Linked DNA regions of Homo sapiens. The protein of the gene in region 3 interacts with the protein of the main gene of each other region in a pairwise test. Each region holds a gene or a part of one and is shown on either strand. Other genes may lie near its edges.

Region 1 (7,122 bases), on a different chromosome or scaffold from region 3:
ACAATACTTCCAATTACATCCCTTAAGCCAACATTGAGTCATTTGCCACTAATGGCAAATGCAATTCTTTAGCTGGATAAAGAAGTCTGTGCAACAGATATCATCCTTTTTTTGGTTTTGTTTGGTTTTGTTGTGAATTTTGCCCTATCTGTTACCCTGAAAATGAGAGACAAAAGCCTACTTCAAGATTTGAGTTCATTGTTCCACTAGGAATCCAGGTCCGATAGAAATATGATGTGAGTCACGTATGTAATTTAGAATTTTTCTAGTAGCCACATGTAAGAAGTAAAAAGAAATAGGTAAAATTAATTTTGGCTGGGCATAGTGGCTCCCGCCTGTGATCCTAGCACTTTGGGAGGCTGAGGTGGGTGGATCACTTGAGATCAGAAGTTCGAGATCAGCCTGGCGAACATGGTAAAACCCCATCTCTACTAAAATTACCAAAATGAGCAGGTGTGGTGGTAAGGCCTGTAGTCCCAGCTACTCGGGAGGCTGAGGCAGGAGAATCACTTGAACCCAGGAGGCGGAGGTTGCAGTGAGCTGAGATTGTGCCACCGCACTCCAGCCTGGGCGACAGAGCGAGATTCCGTCTCCAAAAAAAAAAAATTATTTTTAATAATGTTTTTATTCAACCTAAGATATCAAAAATATTTCAACATGTAATCATTTATACAAAATTATTAATGAAAAAAGATTCTTGAAACATTGTACCTTCTTTTTTGAACTCCCTCTTCAAAACCCCCCGTGCGCATATTTTACACTTCTAGCACATTTCAATTCGAGTTAGCCACTTTTTAGGTATTCAGTGGCCACTCAGTGGCAATGAGACTTCAGATAGCGTTATGTTTTCTTGCATATTTATCCTTATTGCTTTCTTCTATATGTCTTTCAGCATTTTGTCAGGGAAAAGAAAACAGCTTTCAGAGATAATACTGTTAACATTTTGTATGTCATTCTAGACCTTTTTTCTATGCAATATACCTATAAAAATACATATGTATATGTAACAAAATGAACTATTTTGTGGTGTATTTTTTTTTGTATTGGATAGCACAGCGGGTCTACTCGAAGAGATGCTTGTTTGCAATCTACAACAATAAATTCTGGACTTGCTCCAGAATTTATTTGGCACTCTTTGTGGATTTACCAAGCTATTTTTAAATTGGACAAGCAGCTTTCTCGCCAGCTGGCGGGGACTCTTGTTATTAAAAGTTAGCTCAGTAAGAAGGGTCCTCCTGCCTGTTCCACATTTACAGCTGATTCTCATTAACCATGGTAGTTACGTTCTATAAAGTTACTGCAGACACTGAATTAGCACATACCAAACCATCGCTCCTAGGGGAAATACAGGATTCAGTTGCTGTGAGCCTCCTGTTCACAACATTTTTGTCAGCTGATCAGTACATAACCTCGTTTTATGTGTATTTCTGTTTAAAGACATGTTAATATATATTGTTGATCATTAACGTTGAACTCAGGGCCAACAACAGTACTATGACTCATGTCTTAAACAAAGCTAATCACACACATGTATTTTCTGCATAAGGCACATCACAGCCTTCTCATGGTTAGGAACGCTAGAGAACACTTCAGCACTACACTTGGGGACCATTTTCAACAGTAAAATCACCAAACTAAAGCATAAACGTGGCACTAAATAGACCACAGTGACACTTGTTTAAAGGATGAAACAGGAAGGCTCGGTGTCACCTTGCTTGACCTCAGCTGGGAATGTACGTGGCAGGTGACTCCACTTTTTGCTGTTGTGGACGTGTCCACTAATGACCTCAAAAGCACTGCAGGCCAGGCGTGGTAGCTCACACCTGTAATCCTAGTACTTTGGGAGGCCGAGGCGGGTGGATCCCTTGAGCCAGAAGTTCAAGACCAGCCTGGCCAACATGATGAAACCCCTTCTCTACGAAAAATACAAAAATTAGCTGGGTGTGGTGGTGTGCGCCTGTAATCCTAGCCTCTTGGGAGGCTGAGGCACGAGAATCGCTTGAACCCAGGAGGTGAAGGTTGAAGGGAGCCAAGATCACACCACTGTACTCCAGCCTGGGTGACAGAGCAAGACTCTATCTCAGACAAAACAAAACAAAACAAAAAGCACTGCCAGTATTCATTTTGAGGTTACAAATAAATTTCAGTGAGGAGGCAAATTTACAAATATGGAATCATGAGTAATAAGGATTGACTGCATATTTCTTGGCACTGACTGTATGCCAAGCACTGCACTAGGCATTCACCCTGGCCCTGTCTGAACTTAGTTAATAGTCACGTTCACCTGCCTTTTTTGTTTGTTTGTTTTTGTATTTTTAGTAGAGACGGGGTTTCTCACCATTTTGGCCACGCTGATCTCCAACTCCTGACCTCAGGCAATCCACCCACTTCGGCCTCCCAAAGTGCTGGGATTATAGGCGTGAGCCACCGCACCTGGCCACCAGTGGTTGTAAATGGTCCTGACCCTTCGTCTTTCTCCTGTTAGGAAGAGATAATGAATCATTGATTGTTTTTTGCATTCTGATACCAGGGAATTTGCCTGGCTCCTGAATCATCCAAGTTTCAGTCTTCATGTTCTCAAATACTGGCCACTTTGTCCCTAGTTTAGAAGCCAACCGCCTTTGTCTGACCTTGGGCAAGTCACTTAGGCTCACTGAATTTCCATCTCCTTTTTTAAAATTTTTTATTTATTTTTTATTGAGACAGAGTCTCACTCTGTCTTCCAGGCTGGAGTATAGTGGTGTGATCATGGCTTACTGTAGCCTCGAACTTCTGGTCTCAAGCAACACCTCCAGCCTCAGCCTCCTGAGTAGCTGGGACTACAGGTGCACACCAGCATACTCAGCTAATGTTTTATTTTATTTTTTGGAGAGACAGCATCTTTCACTGTGTTGCCCAGGCTGGTCTCAAACTCTTGGCCTCAAGCAGTCCTCCTGCCTTGGCCTCCTGAAGTGCTGGGATTACAGAAGTGAGCCACCATGCCCAGCTGCCATCTCCTCTTTTCTAAAATGAGCAATGTCAGGCTCAGAGGTTTGTTATGAAGATTATCTGAGATGCTGTTTGAAGCTTTAGCACAGAGGGTGGCGCATAATGTTGTCAGTCTGTCTCAGCCTGGCCTTCCTGGGCTCTGCAGTGCTGCACTGTGCTTACAGAGCCTAGATTGGGTAACCTGTGTCTACCTCCAGGCTGGTGATGGAAAATCACAGTGCATGTTACTGAATAATAACCTCTCCCACTTTCCATCTTTCCATTGCATCCCCCTCTGTTGCCATGAGAATGAAATGTTAATTGCTACGTTCTACCCCCCTGAGTTTAAATAGTGTTAGGTCGTTCTTTTTTACCTACCTCGTAGCATTGTAGGAAGAAATAAATGAGGAAATAATACGAGAGGTGCTTAAAGCAGTGCCCAGCACCTGAGTGTTTAATGAATGTTCTCTGTTATTATTAGGTGTGGTTGAATCGTGTCCTCCCCTCCTGGGACAGACTGGCTGGAGCTCAGCTGTACTTCCTGGGAGAAGACAATTTCTGGGTTTAATCATCTGAATCTTGGTCTCTTTGCATATCTAAATGACTTTCTCTTTGATTATAGAGCCCAGACTCGGAAAAGACTAAGAATGGCGGGGCATGGTGGCTGATGCTTATAATCCTAGCACTTCGGGAGGCCGAGGCGGGCAGATCACTTGAGGTCAGGAGTTCGAGACTAGCCTGGCCAACATGGTGAAACCCCATCTCTACTAAAAAATATAAATATTAGCTGGAAATCGCCTGAACCTGGGAAGCGGAAGTTGCAGTGAGCCGAGATCATGCCATTGCACTCTAGCCTGGGCAATAGAGTGAGATTCCATCTCAAAAAAACAAAAGGCTAAGAAAAAGGTGGATTCCTTAAGGACTGAAGTGGAACAGTCTTGCCTGTTTCCTTTTATATCCCTGTGCCATACAGTCCCTAAGTCCTGTGTATTCCTTCTTTTGTCATTCCACTTTCATACCCATCTACCCCTCCCCCTTCTCTTCCCTCTCTGCCATCAGCCTGGACTTGACCACAGTATATCTTGCCTGATTTCCTGCAAATCTTTCTACCTGCCTCTTGCACATGATTGCTAGGTTCATATTTCTTAAATCATTCCTTTAATCATGTCATAGTTCTGCTCAAATGACAGCAGTTTGTTCCCTGTTTTTTTTTTCCCAGATGAAATTTAAATGAGTGCTGTCTAGCAGAAATATTATGTGAGCCACATATATAATTTTAAGTTTTTTAATAATTACATTAAAAACAAAAAGAAACAAATGAGATTAATTTTATTTATTTATTTATCTTGAGATGGAGTCTCGCTCTGTCGCCCAGGCTGGAGTACAGTGGCGTGATCTCGGCTCACTGCAACCTCTGACTCCCGGGTTCAAGTGATTCTCCCGCCTCAGCCTCCCAAGTAGCTAGGATTACAGGCACGCACCACTCTGCCTGACTAATTTTTTTGTATTTTTACTAGAGACGGGGTTTCACCATGTTGACCAGGCTGGTCTTAAGCTCCAGATCTTAAGTAATCTGCCCACCTCAGCCTCCCAAAGTGCTGGGATTACAGGTGTGAGCCACCGTGCCCAGCCAGAGATTAATTTTAATAATATATTCTCAATTTAACACAATATATCCAAAACACTATAATTTCAACAGGTAATATAAAAAAGTATTAATGAGATATTTTGCATTTTTTTTTCTTACACTTAAAGCACATCTCAATTCTGATGCCAAATTTTCATTGGAAATATTTAATCTCTATTCAGATTTTATAAAACTTACAATTCAGCGAAATAGATTCACATACCCAACCTATTGGAAACATACTTAAAATTTTTCCAACAACTGAATCAAGTCTCAGCTTTAAAATTTAAATTAAATTAAATTGGAAATCCAGGCCATCAGTCACAGGAGGAGCATTTCAAGTGCTGAATGGCGCAGGTGGCCTGTGATGGACAGCCCGGGGATAAGCTAGCAAGCCCAGTGTCCTGGTGTCCCAGCCTCACAAGTTCCTTCCGCTGCACAGCCCTTCCCTCGCTGGCGCAGCATACTCACGGGTGTACTGCTGCCTCCCTTTCCTGGAGAGCCCATCTGCTCTCCCCACTGTGGTTCTTTGGATTGTAAAGATCAGGTGACACAGGGAGCATCAAATAAGGATGCATGTGGATTCGAACTGGAAAGAAGTCAGGACCTGAGACAGCGCAAGGGACCAGCCCACATTCTGTGTGGTGACTCCCACGGCTCCTCCGCCTCTCTTTCTCTTTCAGCTGCCCCAACACAGCAGGATCTCACTGGACTCTGATGATGGAGTGTCCAGGCTGGGCAGTGCTGGCTCCAAGGTGATTCCTGCTACAGTCATCTCTGGCTAGAGAAGCGGAATAGCAAGCTCTTTGGTGGCTTTTGTCAGAATGGTGGGGTAGCAGGAGGCAGTGAGGTCAGCGGGCATTATGCCGTCCTGTGGCCTGGCAGGGAGTGAAATTGGCCATGCCTCGAGAGTAATCCTTAGGAGACCACGCTGAAGCCCAAGACCAATGGCTGTGGCTTCTTGGCATGGCCTCTTTTATTTAAGCAGGGTGCAGCTTGCACTTTAGTTCCTTCAGCATGAACCACAAACCCCTCCTGCCTTCCAACTCGCCCTGAAAATCCCACTGTTTAAACCACTTGGGTAAACTCTTCTTCCTAGGAGGCACATGTGTTTTGGGGACCTGAATTATGTCTTCTTTTCATCTGTTGGCCTGCAAGGCCGTAGGGATGAGGCTCAGGAAGGACCAGTTATGATGGAAGGAGGTTCTGGAATAATGGTTCCTTTCAAGTGAACAGGATCTAGAATACCAGTACTGAGGAGAGAGAAGGCGTGGAGCCTAAGGAGGAGAGGGGGAAACCCATCTTTGCGGATTTGCCTATGGCCAGCTCTGCGTTAAAGCAGTCTCCCTCCATTGAGTCAGATCGAAAATTCCTTTTTGCCCGGTGAAGGAAAATAAACTATTAACACAACATAAACTTGCATTAGTCACAGGCTGTGGCCAACTATGGTAACCAGGTTGATGACATAAAAGCATTTTTACTTGATGTGGTGGCAGCTGTTGCAAGCATTGGACATTCTGAGTCCAAGACCTTAGGTTTGTTTTTTTTTTTTTGAAAAGGAGACTTGCGGTGGGGCGCGGTATCCCACGCCTGTAATCTCAGCACTTTGGGAGGCCAAGGCGGGTGGATCGCCTGAGGTCAGGAATTCGAGACCAGCCTGGACAATATAGTGAAACCCTGTCTCTACTAAAAATACAAAACTTAGCTGGGCGTGGTGGGGGCGCCCGTAATCCCAGCTACTCGGGAGGCTGAGGCGGGAGAATGGCTTGAACCCGGGAGGCGGAGGTTGCAGTGAGCCGAGATCTTGCCATTGCACTCCAGCCTGGGCGACAAGAGCAAAACTCCATCTCAAAAAAAAAAAAAGAAAGAAAGAAAAGAAAAGGAGACTTGCTCTGTCATCCAGGCTGGAGTGCAATGGCGCCATCTTGGCTCACTGCAACCTCCGCCTTCCAGGCTCAAACGATTCTCGTGCCTCAGCCTCCCTAGTAGCTGGGACTACCAGCACGCGCCACCATGCCTGGCTGATTTTTGTATGTTTAAAAGAGACAGGGTTTCACCATGTTAGCCAGGCTGTTCTTGAACTCCTGACCTCAGGTGACCCGCCTGCCTCCACCTCCCAAAGTGCTGGGATTACAGGTATGAGCCACCATGCTGGCCAGGCCTTAGCTTTTAATGCTGAGATTTTGCCACTTGGAGGCTGTGCGACTCTAGACAAGTGATTAGCTTTTAATGCTGAGCTTAGCTTTTAATAGACAAGTGAATAGACAAGTGATTAGCTTTTAATGCTTACTAATAGACAAGTGATTAGCTTTTAATGCTTAATAATGCTTTTAATAATAATGCTTTTAATAATTATAATTATAATAAATAATATATAAATAATATAATACATATTATAATTATATACATATATAAATATAATATATTTATATAATATATAATAATGCTATATGAATATTGATAACTAATATTAGTATAATATATCTAATATAATTATACAATATTATAATTATGATTTTTATATTACA
Region 2 (4,218 bases), on a different chromosome or scaffold from region 3:
GAAAGATCAGGGGCCCTGGAAGCCACCAGAAGCTTGGACTAGGAAGGGAGAGCTGAGCCTCCAGGGCCGTGGCATCTGTTGGCCATGTGCTGGGACGGGAGGGAGCACTGGTGGCCATGCCACAGTGACAAGGTGAAGGCCCTGGATGGTCCACAAGACACAGCCTGGGTTTCTCTCCAGATCGCAGGCCCAGCCAGCAGGCATGGGGCCCCCAGCCTCAGTACTGATGCTTTATACTTTGTGTAGTTTTAAGAAGAATTGTGTCTTTCAAGGGAGTAAGAGAAGGATGTTTCTGTGGTTAGGGCAGTACATGTCTGTGAGCTACATGCAAAGGGTCCTGCTGCTGCTGTGCCCAGGGTAGACCCCTCCTTTCCACAGGGATGCTTCTGTTTGCGGGGACGGTCGGTGCAGCTGCAAGGCTGGAGGCGGCCGGCAGGTGCCCGGTGCTGGCTGCAGATGCGGCGCTAACCTTCTCTCCCCACTTGAAGGCATGCGGCTACCAAGGGCATCCTTGTGGCTATGGTCTGTACTTTCTTCGACGCTTTCAACGTCCCGGTGTTCTGGCCGATTCTGGTGATGTACTTCATCATGCTCTTCTGTATCACGATGAAGAGGCAAATCAAGGTAAAGCAGAGGCGCTGCCGCCACGCCGGCCGCAATCGCTGTTCTGTTACCCGCAGCATTGGGGGAGCTGTGCTGGGCTGTGGTGGGTGGTGGCAGAGTCTGCCTGGTGTGAATGTGGAGCTAAGTGGCACCGTCTTGTGTGTGACGAGGACACTGCTCCGTTCCCAGCACGGCCGGCTAACTAAACGGGGAGCGCAGCTGTGGGAGCGGGCGGGCTCTTGGTGGAAACTTTGTGGAAGCCGGGTGGGAGAGCCCCGGCGAGTGCAGTGTCCCGGTGGCTCCTCTTAGGGTGCCCAGTGCCCCGCGCCAGCCTGCCCGAGGAGGAGGGTGTTAGGGGGAAGTTAGCCGAGACTGCGGACTGTGCCCTTGACGGTGTGGCCTTCGTGCTGCGGGCCTCACTCTGTGCCCGGGGTGTTGGCTGCAGAGAGGGCCCTGGGCCACCTCACATCCCCCTTGCCCTTCCTCCACGGGAGGCTCACGAAGCACTGGGATTGATGGGGTTTCAAACCTAGGCCTCGTGGGCTGTGGAAGGTCTTGCTGTGTTGATGTGGGCGCAGGAAGCCACTGGGGCTCCGATTCCACTTGTCTGATGTATAGAAAAGATGGGGGACCTTTGGCCGCTCAGATTTGGGGACAGTGTGACTGACTGGAGAGCGGTTGTGCAGTAACTGAGTCTGTGTTTCTCTCCCCAGCACATGATTAAGTACCGGTACATCCCGTTCACACATGGGAAGAGAAGGTACAGAGGCAAGGAGGATGCCGGCAAGGCCTTCGCCAGCTAGAAGCGGGACTGAGGCTGCCTCACGTGTTGCAAGAACAGTTTTGAGCCATTGTTAACAATGCCTTTTTTCTTCACATAAAGTAGTTGATTACGAGGGAGTCAAATTTTCTTTTTAAAAAGGAGCTTCAATGATTTGTAACTGAAATATCAGGTTCTAGAAGAAACTGGCGCTTAAACCAAATCGCATGGATTTCTTTTTCAGTGACGTTCAAGTGTTTCTCACGGATGGAATTCTAGTCAGCTGCAGGCGGGAAGCCAGGCGGGTGGAGCCCATGGGAGCAAGGGCGAGTGGCCGGTCCCCGCTGTGCCAGGTGGGCAGGCAGGAGCAAGGCCTGCGAGGGAGGAACGGGCCGCTCCCCGCCAGCCGCCTTCCCCAGCAGCCGCAGGTGGTGCCAGCCACTCCACAGAGCCCGAGGGATGATCTAGCCTGATTCCTGCGTGTCCGAAAGAACTTAACGTTTTAAAGGTGATTGTCAAGTAACTGTGTGGGGTTCTAATGCCAGTTTCCTAATTCCATCTCACTGGAGATGTTTAAAGTTGGCCTCTATCCTAATGACTCAAAACTTGGTTCTTAACTACCATGATTGCTTTTGAGGGCCCGGAATTATAAATATATATTATATTTTAATTGTTTGAGATTATTTTGACACATTTCTTTGATACGTAGAGTGTTTTGTTTTTAATTTAAATCTGTCCTCATGCAACCCTCCATGAGGGGCAGCGAAGCTGGCAGGGAGCAGACTGGCTTTGTAGGTTCAGCACTCGGCCCCCCACTGCGGGAGAGGCGGAACCCACTTGCATGTCAGCGTTTTTGATTCGAGAAAAGAAATACTCTCAACGTTTTACCAAGTGATTTTACCTCCACCTTTACTAAAGTCTTTACCTAAAACATGGCAGTCGCTGGACACAGGAAAGCCCACCTTTTGTTTGGCCTTTTCGAAAGGTGACCCATATTGCACAGCAGAACATCACAGCTGTGGTCCCAGATGAGACACTGACATGCGAGTGAAGGCCTCTCCTCCTGGGCCCCGGGCTGCGCAGGCTCCTCACTCTGGGCGGTGTTTCCTGTCTCAGAATTGACACGGTGAATGCTTAGTGTCTGGATTTTCTTGTACCAGTGTTTACATATCTGACATCGAGCTCCTCTAAGAGGCCACGTTCAAGCTTGTGTGTCCCTGACCCAAGATAGCCAGTGCTGCTCCCAGGTGGTACTTCTGGTACCGTGTTGAGACACTTGGGATTCTCAGACTGTGGACAGGAGTGTTTGTCATTTTTCATACTGTTTTCTTAATAAGCGCTCAGGCCTAAGGTGTGACAGGAAGTCGCACGCGCTTGGCCAGAGCACAGTGAAGCAAAGGACTGGGTGCTGATGGATGGAGCCACGGCGGCATCTGCCCACCCGGCCGCAGCCCCCAGTGCCTCTCCTGGTGGTCCTCCCAGTCTAGAGGGTCACGGCCCCCCCGCCCTCCTCCGTCTCTGGCAAGCTGACCTTGACTAACCCAGGAATACAGGGTCATCCTCATTCCTAAGTAAGTCAAACAGCAAGACATGGTTTGCGCGGGTCTTTGCCGGAAGCCGGTCCTGCTGGCCAGGTGTTTTACGTCAGCAGGGAAATGTGGCACACGCCCTCGAGGCATTTTAACACTGCGCTTCAGGAAATCTCAAGTTCCATCTTGTGTTAGTAACGTACCCACATTTTGCTGGAGTTAGTTTATTAAAGATGCCTACGGTGAACTCTCTGGCGCAGGTTAAATGCAGTTTTGAAAACCTGGAAACATCAAATGGAGGCGGGAAATAGGCTGGGGCCGAGCTGAGGGGCTGAACACAGCAGTGACCGTGGGTCAGCAGGTCGCCTGCCCAGCAGGCCCCCCAGGAGAGGGCTCGGGCGCCCCTGGCAGCCCCCATACCCCCAGGACCTGGCTCGTGAGTGCGTCTGGGTCAGGAAGAGACCTCTCTGTGCGTCTCAGGCTGAGATGCAGATTTCTGTTTTCTAAAACTGGAAGCGACCTTGACGTGTATTGAAGGTGTGTGTGCCAAATGCTTCCGACGGAGGTGCTGGCCTTGGTTGGTTTCTCTCTGCCCCGTGTGGTCATCAAGTCCTGGGGGATGTGCTCTGCCCAGCCGCCCTCGGGGAGAGCAGCGCCGCCTCCCATGGGGCCGTGGGGCTGCTGTTCTCACTGCACTGGCTGAAGCAACCCGCCAGCCTCCGTGCCCCACCCCACCCAGCACGCACTCATTCAGTCCATTGCCTTAACACAAGCCTGATGGGGCTGTTTTCTCACAATATAAACGAATAAAGTGTCTTCTGGCCTACTTCTGAATTACTTCTCAACTGTATGGTTTGGGGAAGGGAGGGAAACCTAAAATCCCGTCCAAATAAGTGAAATTCCTGAAGAAGTGGCTGAGTCCTACCAGGTTGGGGTTAGGGAAATGTTCTGGGTTCAGGCGCCCCTCCCAGGGCTGAGAAAGCGCAGCCAGGGACAGCTTTCTGTTCTCTCCCAGGGTGGCTAGGTTAGTATCTTACATGACAAAAAACTGAGAGTGTTCTAACTTCTGTGCAAGCAAGGTTAATCCTGAGACTAAATCTTGGCGTTCAGACTCCCGTAGAGGTCATCTGTGTCCAGGCCCACCCGGGCGCCGGCTCAGCGGTAGTGCCGAAGGTAGATGAGCTTCTGGGGAGGGAACTTCTCCCGGCAGAGGGGACACTCCGCCTGCGGAGAGGAGAAAGGGGGTCACAGCAGCTGGGGCCACTGGGCCATGCCCATCCCCATCGGCATTTCTTTTCCTGTCCACATTCTCTGCACATGACACAC
Region 3 (7,122 bases):
GGATCATACCAATCCAAGACCATGGATCAAGGAGAGAACTTTTTACTTGGTAGGATCACCAAAGCTTTTTGAGCAGAGGGTAATGTGGTAAACACTGAAGAGGAAAGGAAGCATGGTAGAGTCGGGAGACCATACGATCTCCATATTAGATGACTCTTTTTGCTTTTAGATCCATTGCAGAAGTCTTGTGGTCATTAGCTCCAGCAAAATGCTGTGTCGATTTTATCCTTTTGACATAAATATATATTCTCTACACTCATATTTAAAAAGTATTAAGCCTTCTGATACGCCACATAATGAGATAATGTTCTTTTTCATTTTATGGATCAAGTTTCTTCACTGTATGGATAGAATTATGTTTCTGCAGGTATTATTGGTATGGGTTCTGTTTCTGCAATCTTGATTGTTGTGACTGCAATTACTCAATTTCTCTAGGTAAAAAGGTGTTAAAAATAATGCATTTGAAATGGTTTTCTTATTGCAAATTTAGATTTGGATGGAGCCAGCCAACGGCGTTATTCTGAGAATCTCTCCTACGGTGAAGATGACCACATCCCTGCTCACTCACAGTCCCCATGTGAAAGAGGGGATGCCAAACACCACGGCACATCTCACCAAGAGTCCAGTGTGGTCCAAAGCCTCAGGCGCCAATCCACAGAGGGCAGCTTGGAGATGGAGACAGCTTTTAATAGCCGGGGATTTGAAGATTCCTATGCCACTGACAGCTCCTCCATGTGGAGTCCAGAGGCAAGTTATTTGTTTTTCATTCTTTCATTGGTTCCCTTTCCCCTTCCCCTCTTTCCACTCTCCTTTCTCATCTCTCTAAAAAAAAAAAAAAATTCCAGAAAGGAAGCATTACTTTTATCTGCAATAAATTTTTGTCCAGATGACCAAAATCCCATGCATGTCAATAAAAGAGTCATAAATTTCTCTCAAAATGGAAAAAAAAGGATGAACGGTAAAAAAAAAAAAAAAGAAAAAAAGAAAAAAAAATAAGAATGGTGGCAGAATGGATCCAGGAACAGCCAGGCTTTTCTTTTATATAAAGGCTTTTTATAGACTTAATTTTAAATAATGGAATTTTCAGTTCTTTAGAGGGACTGGTTTATTTACTTCATGGTTTCAATTAAGTGGAGTCTATTTTTATTTAGCCCAAATCTCAAGTTACGATTATTTGATATGAAAATTATTTGAAAATTGAACTAAAATGAAATGGCCTTCCAAGTGAAATTATACAAGGTGTAATGATGCAGATCTTGCACTGTGAATATATACAAAATATATTTTGTGCCTAGGAGACAGCATTAATCAGTAATGCCCCTCTGGCCATTGACATTGGTTTTGTAGTAAATCTCTGATAAAAGATACTTCTTCCAAAGTTCTTTTTCAAGTAAAGCTTAGTCCAGAATAAATGTAACAATCAATCCAGAGATATGGCTGGAGGTGATGATGGTAGTAGCTACCATTTATTGAGCAGTTAATATATGCCAGGCACTGTGATAAGGATTTTACCAAATTGTTTCCTTTTACTGGCCCTTACGGTTATTTTTCCATTAGATAGATCCCTCCTATCATGATTCTGTGACATTGGAAGGCATTAAGGAATGGTGTTTAATACCTAATTTGAAATTAATTTTGATGAAATAAGTCATATACATATATAAACCTTTAATATAATTTGCAGGGATGGGGGAAGAAGGAGAGAGGTGAATGGATTTTATTAGCATCCATTTGAGAAAATAAACAGGATGCATCTCTTATTAGGACTTGGAGTGTCACACACGCTAAATGCTCAAGGTAAAAAAAAAAAAAGGAATCACAGAAAACCCTGTTTCCAAGCCTTAACTGCTAACATGTTGGCGTGTGTAGGTAGTATCTAAGGAGGGGTATGCATACACATCTGTGCCCCTGTGTAGATGTCTCTGCTGAGGACCAGAAATGGTAGCTCACATATGTGGTTTGTGGCTTGTTAAAAAGCAGCCCTTCATATGGAGGCACCCAAAGCCATTAACTTTATACATTTTGTTTAAAAAAAGAAAAAACTCTGCTTACCCGTTAGTTTACTACCAAGCCGTATCAAATCCCACACACTAACTCTTAAAAAATATTTTGAATCTCTCTCCCAAAAACAAAACAGACCAAATGATTTGCCTGCCTATTGATACTCTGTCTCCTTGGTGATTGTGCCATGAGGCTTGGAAGTGACTTCTCCAGGTCACCTCCCATTTACCTGCCTGCTGGAGCTTTAATAGAAGACTCGGTATTGAGGGTACTAAATGTTCTCAGACTCCAAAAATACCCAGACATCTCTGTGTGCTCCATTCAACCTCCTATCTATTTTGAGAAAAAACTGTAATTTGGTGCTCCTACAGTAGAACCTCAAATCCAACTCGGAGGCAGTTCCCGTAACTGCCTGCTTTGCAGGCTTAGCTTGCCTTTTAAGAAATGATTTATTTGCCTCTTAGCTGTATTGAGAACTCTGTCTTCCCCTGTGTATCTGGCATCAGGAACATATTGTAGGCCTGTTTACTTTAGGCCACACAGATGACATCAACACTATCTTACTAAAACAGAAAGGCTTTCAATTTGACAGAAAATCTTTAAACCTACCTGGGTTTTGACAATTTGACACAAGTATTCTCATCTTAAGGAAAAGCCCAGGATATTGGAGCTCAAGGAATCATTTATTTTGTCTCAGCAGGAAACTGGTCGTGCAGTGTGACTACCTGTTAGGCTGATGGATTTTCGAGCTCTGCTCTTCTCTGCTGGCGAAGGCCTTTGGCTTTTTCCTGCAGACCCAGGGCTTGGCAGGAAAGACAATGGGAGTGTGGCTGGTGATTTTGAGCACACAGGGAGACAGGTGTCCCACTTTTCATCTCTGCTTTCCACTGATTAATTGGTTGGCCTTGAGAAGTTAATTAAAATCTGCCAAATGGGGATAAGAATGAAGAGATTTTTACCTTGCAGGAAGGTCAGATGGATTAGTGGTATTAACAGTACCCAAGTGAGGAGCTCCTTCAGTTGCCTGGTGAGAGGTAAAGTGTGTTGAAATAATTAATTGCTATGAAAATACCAGCATTCACAAATCTTTTTCTCAAATCAACCCAGGGAGGGGCTACAAAGCCCAGTTTTCATGGGCCACAGCTTGAATTGGCCTATCCAAAGCCCAGCCATTGGCAGGATCTGTTTATTCAGAGGAGTTCTTAGGACAGTCAGGAGCTCTACCCAGGACTCTCTTAGAAACCTGCAGGTGGAGTGAGCATTTATCCGAAGAGACAGCCTGATACATAAGTGGAGAGAGCTCCTCATTCACTAAAATATTTTTACCTTGGCATTGAAGTTGACAAAACTAAGAGCTATTAACTAACATTAAGAGCAGGGGCCTCAAAGGATGTGAAAACCACAGAGAGTGTGATTCCAACCCCCACCTTCCGTCTTCTCCCCCTTCATCTTGTGCGCTTGCTCTCTCTCTCTCTCTCTCTAGTGCTCTCTCGCTCTCTCTCTCTCTCTCTATATATATATATATAAACACACACACACACACACACACACATATGTCTATATGTAGAAATAGTTATGCCTAAAGGTTTGGGGAAGAAGAAAGGAGACTGTATGTTTCAAAATAAGGTTTGAAATTTTGAGTATTGGATACGAGTTAAGGCAGGCCTGGGACTCAAACTGCCAGGGCATGAGTCCTGGATAATCTTGTCTGGGAATTTGATCTGGGCTTGGGGGGAGAGAGCGTGTTAGTTATTTAGTCTTTCTAAGCTTGAGTTTCGTCCTCCATAAAATGAAGATATTAAAATACCTACCTCATTGCATTGATGTAAATATTCAAAAAGATAATGTTTCTTAGTTGGGTTCCTCAAAAAAGCAGAGCCTACGTAAAGGCTTTGTTCCCTGCTTTGGGAGTGCAACCCCAGGGAACAAAAGTGCGAGACAAGGGAAGTAAGGCAGGGAAGAAGGGAGGTCAAGTGTGAGAATACACAGTTGAATTGGCCACCACTCAGTATGGCTAATTGCCTGATCTTGTGTGATCACACTCCAAGAAGCTGTATGAACTGATAGGACAACTGACTACGGGGCAAAAAGTAGACTTCACATATATTGGTGTCAAGCAGGGTTCTGCAGCTGTCTAAGCCTTGGCGGTCGACAGAGAGACCAATGATAAGAAATGAGAATTATATTGTGTGGGTAGAAGGTAAGACTTTATTGAGTAGTTCCAGGCTGAAACTACTTAGAGCCCATATAGGCTGTGCCTTAGGGGAAGATGGAACATGAGTTAAGGCCAAGAAGATCTGAAGTGTTTAAGAGCCAATTTTTATAGTCTGTAAAGGATTTGATATGGTATTTGGCATAAGAAATAGTTTAGTAGATGTTAGCTATTATTACTTATGGTCAGAAATGCAATACAGAGATGATCAAGAGTAGGCTAAAATAGATGGGAGTTTTAGGAAGAGACAAGGGAGTTTGAGAGAAGATTCTGACTTGATTTTTGAGTTGGCCTAAATCCTTGGAGACTTGCTTCTAATATATATACACTAGTCAGTTGTATTCAAAAGTCTCTATAGCAACCACTTTTATCACTTGAAACTAAGTACCTCTGAATAGAAACACTCACGCATGATTGCATGCTCACAGGAAAGGATATAAGAAGCTTCACTTATTTTACAAGAAATCTAAATTTTCTTGCAGGCTAATTTGAATCTTAAAAGAAAAGGATATTTATTAGATGTCTACTGTCTGTCAAGTCCTCTACTTTTTACAACATCCCTACACAGAAGGTACCATCTCCATTTTACAGTTGAGGAAAATAGAACATGGAAAGGATTAAATGACTTGCCCAGTGTCATAGAGCTAGTAAGTGGTAGGCCTGGGCTTCCTAAGGAAATACGAACCCAGAGAACCATGAACTTTCACCCAGACTATGTGGGAAAGTTTCATTGATGGATGCACATTTTGAGGCATTGTATTATAATTTGAAACGAGATCTCTAAATTAGCAAGTTCTGGTGTTCAATTGCATAAATAAGAACTGGTTTGCAATAAGAATCAGATCAAAGTTTAGTTACAGGTAAGGATCATGCCTTCAGAGGAAAATAGAATTATTATTGACATTATTTATAATTTGTTAGTGGGGTGGTTCATTATAATAAATGCAGCCTAGCTCAGTTTTCCCAGTAAGGTCATCAGATCTGAGTGGCTGCATGTAAATTGCTACCCAAGGGTGACATTCCATAAAGAGGGATGTGTGTTTGAGAATAGGTAGCACCAGTCCAGTGGTGGGAATAGATATTTATGCAGTCTGGTCTAAGCCAGGTATTTTCATATCAATGAAAACCTCACAACAACACACCAGCAAGTAGGCACATTAATGTGCATTTTTAAGCTAGACTACCGAGAGGCTGGTCTATTTGGCCAGGGTAAAAAAGCTAGTCAGTGGTAGAGTTATGATTTCAATTTAGGTGTTCTGGCTCCAGGCTCAGTGTTGCTGTTTACTAAAGGGCTGTGGAGGTGTCCTCCTAAATCCTTGCTGCTCAAAGTGTGAGCCGAGGCTAGCAGCGTCAACATCCCTTGTGCCTGTCCCAGAAATGGCAGGATCTCAAGCTCCACTCCAGACCTACTGAATCAGAATCCTCAGATGATTTAGGTCTACATTAAAGTTTGAGAAGCTCAGCCCTAAACCTTTTCTCCCACTTAGATTGAAAATATACTGAAGCATCACCTTCCTGGGACTCCCATCAAAATTCTTGTCTGTAGAAAGCTCTTGCCTGTGGAGAACAGGCTCAGGCTCAACCATCTGTATTTAGGGACACAAGGAAAAGTTGCCTATGGACAATTGCCTGTTGACTTAATTTTAGATTTAGCATCTCAGTTGGTTTCAATGATCCTGGGCAATTGTGCTTTTTGAGAGGCAGTATATATGAAAACACTTTGCAAAAATATAAAAGCTTTAGTTATCCATTCCAAAAACATTCACGAAGGCGCACCATATGCTAGGCACTTTGCCGTCAAAGAATTCACAGTTTAATGCAGCGATAGACCAGTAAACAGACCTATCTGATATAGAGGGAATACACTGGCAGTTAGAAAGCAGGGATTCTGAAGGAGCACAAAGGGGCACCAACTGGCCAAAATGTAATTGGGTATCATCATTTCCATTTCTAATTGTTTCCTCTGCCTGCAACAGGAACAGGACAGGACCAATTTGCAGGTGCCATCCGGGGTCTCAGAGCCCATCTCAAAGTGTGGTGACCTAGATGTCATCTTTGAATATAGAGCCGCCAGCCAGAAGCTCACAGTGACCATTGTGAGGGCACAGGGCCTCCCAGATAAGGACCGAAGTGGTGTCAACTCCTGGCAAGTTCATGTAGTGCTGCTGCCTGGTAAGAAACACAGGGGCAGGACGAACATACAGAGAGGGCCCAACCCCGTCTTCAGGGAGAAGGTCACCTTTGCCAAGCTGGAGCCCAGAGATGTGGCTGCCTGTGCTGTCCGCTTCCGCCTGTACGCTGCCCGGAAGATGACCCGAGAGAGAATGATGGGAGAGAAACTATTCTATCTCAGCCACCTGCACCCAGAAGGGGAAATGAAAGTGACTCTGGTTCTGGAGCCAAGAAGTAATATAAGCGTGAGTATGTTAAATGGTGCTGCTAATGATGTGGTGTGTTCGAAGACCTGGGATTGTCAGCCCTTGATTTAGTACGTTCAGTCTGTGAATTCAGAGACTTTAATTTAATTTTCCATTTGGCTCTCCTCACCCTTGTAAGCCATGATTTGCACTTCATGGTACAATGGGTCTTTCATGCCTGTCTTCCTGATAACCTGATGGATAAATGCCCTGTCCATTTTAGGACAAAATAGCAGCAGTGTGGTAGAGGGCATGGAGAAAAACAGGGAAGGTGGCTTGGCCCTCTGGATTGTGGATAACTGATCCTACTCCTCCTGCCCCCAATCTGCATCATGATGAATCTCAGAGATGGGACTTTCTGGGCAAGGTTCTTAACGGGTATGCTGGGGCAGACTGAGAGAGCAGCCCAGAACTTCAGCTGCTTCTGAAACCTTTCATTTGTGTTACTACCGTCTTCCCTCATACCCCATTTCCCTGCTTGCCACAGGGTTT

The links.
Region 1: the proteins of SYT16 (region 3) and LDAF1 interact in binary tests that used the Homo sapiens proteins (3 or more experiments, as listed by UniProt).
Region 2: the proteins of SYT16 (region 3) and RER1 interact in binary tests that used the Homo sapiens proteins (3 or more experiments, as listed by UniProt).

What each region holds. Positions count from the first base shown.
Region 1 is NC_000016.10:21,161,563-21,168,684, forward strand, and holds part of LDAF1 (lipid droplet assembly factor 1), read left to right. Parts: intron 1-5,277; coding exon of another isoform or gene 5,278-5,349; intron 5,350-7,122. UniProt on the Homo sapiens protein: Plays an important role in the formation of lipid droplets (LD) which are storage organelles at the center of lipid and energy homeostasis. In association with BSCL2/seipin, defines the sites of LD formation in the endoplasmic reticulum.
Region 2 is NC_000001.11:2,401,719-2,405,936, forward strand, and holds the end of RER1 (protein RER1), read left to right. Parts: intron 1-488; coding exon 489-624; intron 625-1,316; coding exon 1,317-1,406; 3' UTR 1,407-3,718; downstream 3,719-4,218. Other genes in the region: PEX10 (peroxisome biogenesis factor 10), read right to left, coding at 4,048-4,116. UniProt on the Homo sapiens protein: Involved in the retrieval of endoplasmic reticulum membrane proteins from the early Golgi compartment.
Region 3 is NC_000014.9:62,074,645-62,081,766, forward strand, and holds part of SYT16 (synaptotagmin-16), read left to right. Parts: coding exon of another isoform or gene 1-49; intron 50-490; coding exon 491-747; intron 748-6,189; coding exon 6,190-6,630; intron 6,631-7,122. UniProt on the Homo sapiens protein: May be involved in the trafficking and exocytosis of secretory vesicles in non-neuronal tissues. Is Ca(2+)-independent.